Homo sapiens: one gene and its partner. The protein of the gene in region 1 purifies or fractionates together with the protein of each later gene. This does not show direct contact. Each region holds a gene or a part of one and is shown on either strand. Other genes may lie near its edges.

Region 1 (3,824 bases):
TTATTACCATTTCCACGGTAAGCAACATATCTTATCATAACAAGAAAATACAGGAGTGAAAAGTCACTAAACAAAGGATTAAGTTTTATGGACATCTTGCATTCCTAAATAGTTTAAATAAACATCTCTTTATTGATTCGACTTTTTTTAGTGTATACATAAAGTGGTTTTTGAAATGCAAAACCACCCAAGATTACTACATACTGTCACTGTAATCATAAAAAGACATTTAAGATATTATTACTTTATTCATTCATGTTATATAGCTTAGACTTCATCACTCAGATTAGTATATATACCAGCTTGGCTTCTTCACTTTGGGAAAAATATAATAAATAATGCACAATAAAACAACAATAAAAAAATCTATTGGCATGGCTTAACATTATCCTGAAATACAATGCTTTTTTTTTTTTTTTTTTTTTTTGAGATGGAGTCTTGCTCTGTCGCCCAGGCTGGAGTGCAGTAGCACGATCTCGGCTCACTGCAACCTCCACCTCCTGGGTTCAAGCAATTCTTCTTCTTCAGCCTCCCTAGTAGCTGGGATGACAGGCGTGTGCCACCATGCCCAGCTAATTTTTTTTGTATTTTTAGTAGAGACAGGGTTTTGCCATGTTTGCCAGGCTGGTCTCAAACTCCTGACCTCAGGTGATTCACCTGCTTTGGCCTCCCAAAGTGCTGGAATTACAGGTGTGAGCCACCGTGCCCGGCCTACAATGCCTTATAATTATCTTTTCTTTCACACAGTTCTACATTCTCTCCATCAGGTGTGGGAATAACAAGTATGTGAATGGACTGAAAAGAAAATACCAATTTATGAAAGAATGTTTCTACCTCAGAAAGTTGATGTAAGTATTAAGTAAATTTACAAATCCTCTACCAGAGTGCTGGCACGGAATTGCTCATTACATGGTAGCTACTGTTACCAATTCATCTCTGCTGAGTTCAGTGGCAATACAAGAATAAAATATGTCACTTTGGGAGGCTGAGATGTCAGATCACAAGGTCAGGAGATCGAGACCATCCTGGCTAACATGGTGAAACCCAGCCTCTACTAAAAATACAAAAAATTAGCCGGGCGTGGTGGCGGGCGCCTGTAGTCCCAGCTACTCGCTACTCAGGAGGCTTAGGAAGGAGAATGGCATGAACCTGGGAGGCAGAGCTTGCAGTGAGCTGAGACTGTGCAGCCTGGGCGACAGAGCGAGACTCTGTCTCAAAATAACAATAAAATATGCTAGCAGAAACAAACATACCGGTCCTGCATACAAAATAAAAGGGTTTCTTTCAGGCCAGGCGTGGTGGCTCAGGCCTGTAATCCCAGCACTTTTGGAGGCTGAGGCAGGTGGAACACGAGGTCAGGAGATGGAGACCATCCTAGCTAACACGGTGAAACCCCATCTCTATTAAAAATACAAAAAATTAGCCAGGTGTGGTAGCACACACCTGTAGTCCCAGCTACTTGGGAAGCTGAGGCAGCAGAATCGCTTGAACCCGGGAGGCAGAGGTTTCAGTGAGCCGAAATTGTGCCACTGCACTCCAGCCTGGGCGTCAAGAGTGAGACTCTGTCTCAAAAAAAAAAACAAAAAACAAAAAACAAAAAAAGGGTGGGGGAGGTTATTTCAAAGCTGCACATGTAGTACCTTAAATGTATGGGGCAACCAAGAAGAGGCAATAAAAAGTACCAAGTAAGAAAACAGTACACATTTTCTAAACAAAATTAAACCTCTGACTCTCCCAGCCAAAGTCAATCTCACTCTCCTCTGCGTATCCACAGCACCGTTAATCCTTCTGGTAGCACCCATAACTAACATGCACATTAAAAAATTTATTTTGTCACTGTTTTAGTAAGGATACAAACCCTCTACTAAAATTTACATTTTTGTACACCTTTGAATTAGCATGGTGTGGTAAGTAAAGCAATGCAAGTGAAGTGAGAGTTGTAAATTTATGACTGTGCACTCAGAGATCCTCAGTTTCCTCAACTCTAAAATAGTAACACTGACTTCCATAAAATTTCTGCTCCCTATCTACTTTAAAGAGCTGTTCCTGAGGATCAAGTTGATTTTCCAGGGGTAAAGGCTATATAAATTATAAAGCAATACATAAACAAAAGGTATAATTATTTTGTTTCAGTGTTTTTGAACATGTATTCAGTAAAACTAGATGGCTTAAGGATGACCTTGGCTACAAAATCTATTCAAACTACTTGTGTACCAAGAAGCACAGTGATACACACACTTTGTTTACTGCAAAAAATGCATTTCTAGAAATGAGAGTACTGTCTGAACAAGCACTATACAAAATCTACAGCATGGTCCCTATGGAGCTGCAGGTATTTTAAGTTGGTAAGTACCCTTTACATCCCCTGAAGACACAGGTATTTTTGGCCGTGATTCTCTGACTACTTTTCTCATAACATTTATATAACAGTCATTACTTTAAAGGTCGCAATAATATTTAAGATGACCTTTATTTTGGTAAAGAACTGCTAGATGAGTTTCAAGTCAAAGCTAAGTCTGGGGGTGAGGGGTGGGGAAGAACTGCTAGAGATTCCTGATCCCTCTGGTCCCCTGACCATGTCCTTGACACACTCCTCAAGCCTCCATATTGTGAGCATTTCTTTGTTCAATGCCTAAACAACTTGGAAAGTTATTTCAATGAATAACAGAGGCAAATTATATTTGAGTTTGTATATTGAAGCCCGTTAATTGACTTCATCTAGATGTTTCACAGACAGCTAAGTTCAACATACTGCTTTATTTCCACTGCCATCAGTAAGCCACCAAACTCCAGAGCAAGACCTCCGAGGCCCCACTTAAGTTTAATTCTATTGACTTCTCAGAGCTCATCTCTATTAGTCTCTCCCTTGCTCACTCTGCACCTGATATACTGGCCTCTCTTCTGGCCCTCAAATAAATCAAGCTCATTTCCTTCTTAGGGACTTTGCATATACTCTCCAGTCTAAGTGGGGATGCCTTTGCACCCAGATCTTTGCATAGTTGATTCCTTTGTAATATTCTGGTCTGAGTTCAAATCTCTCCTCTTTAGAAATGCCATTCCTGACCATCCCATCTAAAAGCTCCCCTCAATATATCACTGTATCATCACCTAGTTTTGTCTTATTTGTCTTAAATTACTTTGTCCTTTTATAATTTGGTCTTCACCTCACTTCTGAAGGTAAAGTGCCATGAAAGTAGGGATCTTGCCTATTATGTTCACTGCTGTATCTCTAGTACCGTAACAGTGCCTAATAACTCAATAACAGTGCCACTCAATAGCATATGCTTAATAAATCAAAGTTTAAAAATAAAAAATGATTTCATCTTCCAGTCTTGCTTCTGCTAATGTCCCTGTTTCAGTAAATGCTACCCCTATTCTCCTTGTTATCCACACTGAAAACCTTAAAATGTCATCTTTTAGGCTACTTCTTTACTCATTACATCCAGTGATGACCAAATTTTGAAGACACTACTGCCTAACAGCTCTTACGCTAACCTGTTTCCAAGCAAGATTATCATCTTGATCCAAGCCCTTGTTCAATCTGTGCCTCTACCAACCTAAATTGAGCTTTCCCTCCTTTCTCATCCTTCACACTGCTGCCAGAAAAATAAAAAAGTAGTGTTCTGATCATCTCACTTTCGTGCTCAATAACATTTAATCATTCTTCCACCGACCAAAGTCTGGCATTCAAAGCACTCTACCACAAGGACTTACTCAGCTCCTGGTTCACAGTCTTCCTTCTAATGACCAAATCTATTGTGCATTTTTTCAGTGACCATTACAGGACTGCTCTGCTGCATTTGACACCACTCGCCACTCCATCC
Region 2 (3,714 bases), on another chromosome or scaffold:
AATCATTCAAGACAAAAGCAAACCAGATGTGTAAAGATCCTGAGGCAAAAACAACTCCAAGGAGCCAGGTATGGTGGCCTGTAGTCCCAGCCACTTGGGAGGCTGAGACAGGAGGGTCGATTGAGTCCAGGAGTTTGAGGTTACATCAAGCAATGATTGCACCACTGCACTTCAGCCTGGTTGACAGAGTGAGAACCTATCTCTAACAAACAACAATAAAAAAACAATTCCAAAGAGTGTTTGAGGATCTGAAAGAAGGCCTGTATGGTTGGAGTATAATAGTAAGAGGGAGATTTGTAGATGAGAGTGGAGAAGAAATAAAAATCAGATTATTGAAGGGACTTATGTATCATGGTAAGGAGTTTTTTTTTTTTTTCTCAAGGCAGTAGAAAGCTTAAGCAGAGGAGTGATATAATCTGATTTATATTTTTAAAAGAGTTTGCTATATGTATGTTATGCCTCATTTTTTTTTAAATTTTTTATTTTTAGATGGAGTCTTGCTCTGTTGCCCAGGCTGGACTGCAGTGGCACGATCTCAGCTCACTGCAAGCTCCACTTCCCGGGTTCATGCCATTCTCCTGCCTCAGCCTCCTGAGTAGCTGGGACTATAGGCGCCCACCACCACGCCCGGCTAAGTTTTTTCTATTTTTTAGTAGAGACGCGGTTTCACTGTGTTAGCCAGGATGGTCTCAATCTCCTGACCTCGAGATCTGCCTGTCTCGGCCTCCCAAAGTGCTGGGATTACATGTGTGAGCCACCGCGCCTGGCTGTTATACATCAGTTTTTAAAGAGAGACATTAAGAAATAAAGATGACTCTGGCTACTGTGTGGAGGGTTGGAGAGAAGCAAAAGTGGAAGCAGACTGAATAAGGAGACTATTGCTGCAATTCATATAAGAGATGATGGTGTCCTGAAAGAGTGGTGGCAGTGAAAATTGGGAGAAGAGGACAGAGTCAAGATATATTTAGGAGGCAGAAATGACAGGTCTTGATGATGTATTATAAATGGAGAATGAAGAATAGAATAGAGAAAAATGAATAATTAGCTTTGAACTTTCTGGCTTGAGAAATGGGGTAAATGGGGTGTAATTTACTGAAACTGGAAAGATTTAGAAAGGAATAGATTCGAGGAATCAAGAGTTTGATTTCAGATTTCTTCAGTTTGGGATGCCCATGAGATTTCCAACTGGGGATACCAGATAGGCAGTTATACATGAGATTGGAGCACAGAGAGATGTGGGCTTAAAATATAAGTCTGCATCTCATCAGCTTATTCATATGGTATTTATATCTATGGATATGGCTGAGATCCCAAAAGGAGAGAGTGAAGAGAAAATAGAGAAGAGAGTCTAGGGCCAAACCCAAGGAAGCTTCAACACACAGATGAGGAGACTGACAAAGGAAACTGTCAAAGAACAGTCAGAGAGAAAGGTCAGGAGAATGTTTTGATGGTGGGGGCCAGAATATGCTGTCCCAAAATAAGAAGGATTGTTGAGCTGAAGGCAAGTTAAAAGAAGCAGATACAGGCTGGGTGCAGTGGGCTCATGCCTGTAATCTTAGCATTTTGGGAGGCTAAAGTGGACAGATTGCCTGAGCTCAGGAGTTCGAGACCAGCCTGGGCAACATGATGGAACACCATCTCTACTAAAATACAAAAAAAAAAAAAAAAAAAAAAATTAGCCAGGCATGGTGGCATGTGCCTGTAGTCCCAGCTACTCAGGAGGCTGAGGCACGAGAATTACTTGGACCTAGGAGGCAGAGACTGCAGTGAGCTGATATCTCGCCACTGCACTCCAGCTTGGGCAACAGAGCAAGGCTCTATCTCAAATTTAAAAAATAATAATCATGATAATAATAAAAGAAGCAGATATAGGAGAGGTCTTCTGCCCTCCCTGTATTTGCCTAAAAAACCATAAATTTACAAAGACAAAAGTTATCCTACTTCCACCTCCCTCCTCTGCCTCCCACCACCAGGGAGAACAAAGGTTAACCACTGAAGATAACTTTGGACTCTTATTGGCCTGGAAATGGTACTGCTTTACAAATTAGCCTTTATCTGCCATTCATTTGCCTTCCCCCAAGTAGCTACCCATTAGAGACTCAAAGTCCTTAAAGGTCTTTTCCTTTGTCTTACACTTCTTTAAAAATTTATTGTTCTTTGTTGAAGATGCTATATAAGCTGGAATTCTAAGCCACCTTTTTGAGAACTGCTCATTCTCTGGGTGTCTGTCATGTATATATGAAATGTACATGTTAATAAACTTCTGTTTCCTTTTTTTTCTTGTTAATCTGCCTTTTGTAACAGGGGTCCAGTCCATCTAAGAACTTATTGGGGTTATTCTACATGACAAAGAACTCATGAGAATAAGTGTTTCAAGAAGGGGATGACAAATGCTGCTGAGAGGTTTGATAAGATGAGGACTAAAATGTGACCATTGATTGTGGAAGTAATATAATGAACTTGACATGAGTTATGTTAGAAAATTACTGCTCAGGGACACCAAATTAGAGGAGACTGAGAAGTAATAGGAAATTGAAATAGCAGTTGTACCCAACCCTAAACTGTAATTGAACATAAACAGTTTATTTGATGGAGCTTTTCACGTGTCAACCAAAGGAGCAGTGTTAGATACATAAACATTGCTATGATGTCAGAGTTCCAATGTCATGGCCACTGGGATCACTTTGCCCAGACAGACCATTACCCTTCCTCTCCAGCTCTGACTTCTACTCTTCTAGAAGTCACTGGTATACTTTATGGTGTGTCTTCCAATCAGACTCTTGGGAATGTCTTTTATTGAAAACTCCTGTGGATGCATAATCATTTTCCCAAGACTCAGGGCAGATTTCACCTCCTCTGGAACCCCATTAACTTTCTCAAGTATAATTAACAATTTCTTCTTCTGGAGTCCCACAATACTTTACATATACTTTAGTTATTGCATGTATTAAGTTGGTTTCTAGTTGCTTGAGTGTATGTCCAACTAGACTGTGAGCACACTGAGGGAAGGAATTTGGCTTGGAAAGTAAAATTGGCTCCCAGTGTTTTATCTAAACAAATAGGCTCAATTTACAACAGGATTCCATCCTCTTACGCTGTGTATTCCCATCTCTTCCATGCTGCATCCCACCACCCTTCAATGTTATTACAATAAAATTAAGATCAAATAATTTATTCAGCTAATTTTTCTTGTTTTGGACAAAATAGACATCCTAATACATTTATAGCCAAAGTTTAATCTAGACACTAAAAGGAGCATATTTTGCCTTTAGGCTCTGTATTTCCCATCCCGTTCCCAGTCAAGATAATCACAACTGTATTCTTTAGGAAATTCTTCACAAAGAACCAAACATATGTTACTATGAAACTAGATTCTTGGTATCCTGGTGAAAAAACCTGCCCTCTTGCTTGTCTGTAAATACTGGCCTTGGCTGGGTGTGGTAGCTCATGTCTATGATTCCAACACTTTGGGAGGCCAAGGTGGGAGGATCTCTTGAGCTTCAGTGTTTGAGACCAGCCTGGGCAACATAGTGAGATCCCATTTCTATAAAATTTTTTTTAAAAAGCTAGCCTGGCATGGGAGCTTGTGCCTGTAGTTCCAGCTACTTGGGAGGCTAAGATGGGAGGATTGATTGAGCACAGGAGGTCGAGGCTGCAGTGACTGCATTTCAGCCTGGGTGACAGAGGGAAATCCTGTCTCAAAAAAATTAAACA

What was found.
Region 2: the proteins of SP4 (region 1) and PCDHA4 purify together in Homo sapiens (affinity purification with mass spectrometry; one large-scale study listed by BioGRID and IntAct). This does not show direct contact.

Annotation. Positions count from the first base shown.
Region 1 is NC_000007.14:21,472,877-21,476,700, reverse strand, and holds part of SP4 (transcription factor Sp4), read right to left. Parts: intron 1-3,824. UniProt on the Homo sapiens protein: Binds to GT and GC boxes promoters elements. Probable transcriptional activator.
Region 2 is NC_000005.10:141,005,744-141,009,457, forward strand, and holds part of PCDHA4 (protocadherin alpha-4 isoform 1 precursor), read left to right. Parts: intron 1-3,714. UniProt on the Homo sapiens protein: Calcium-dependent cell-adhesion protein involved in cells self-recognition and non-self discrimination. Thereby, it is involved in the establishment and maintenance of specific neuronal connections in the brain.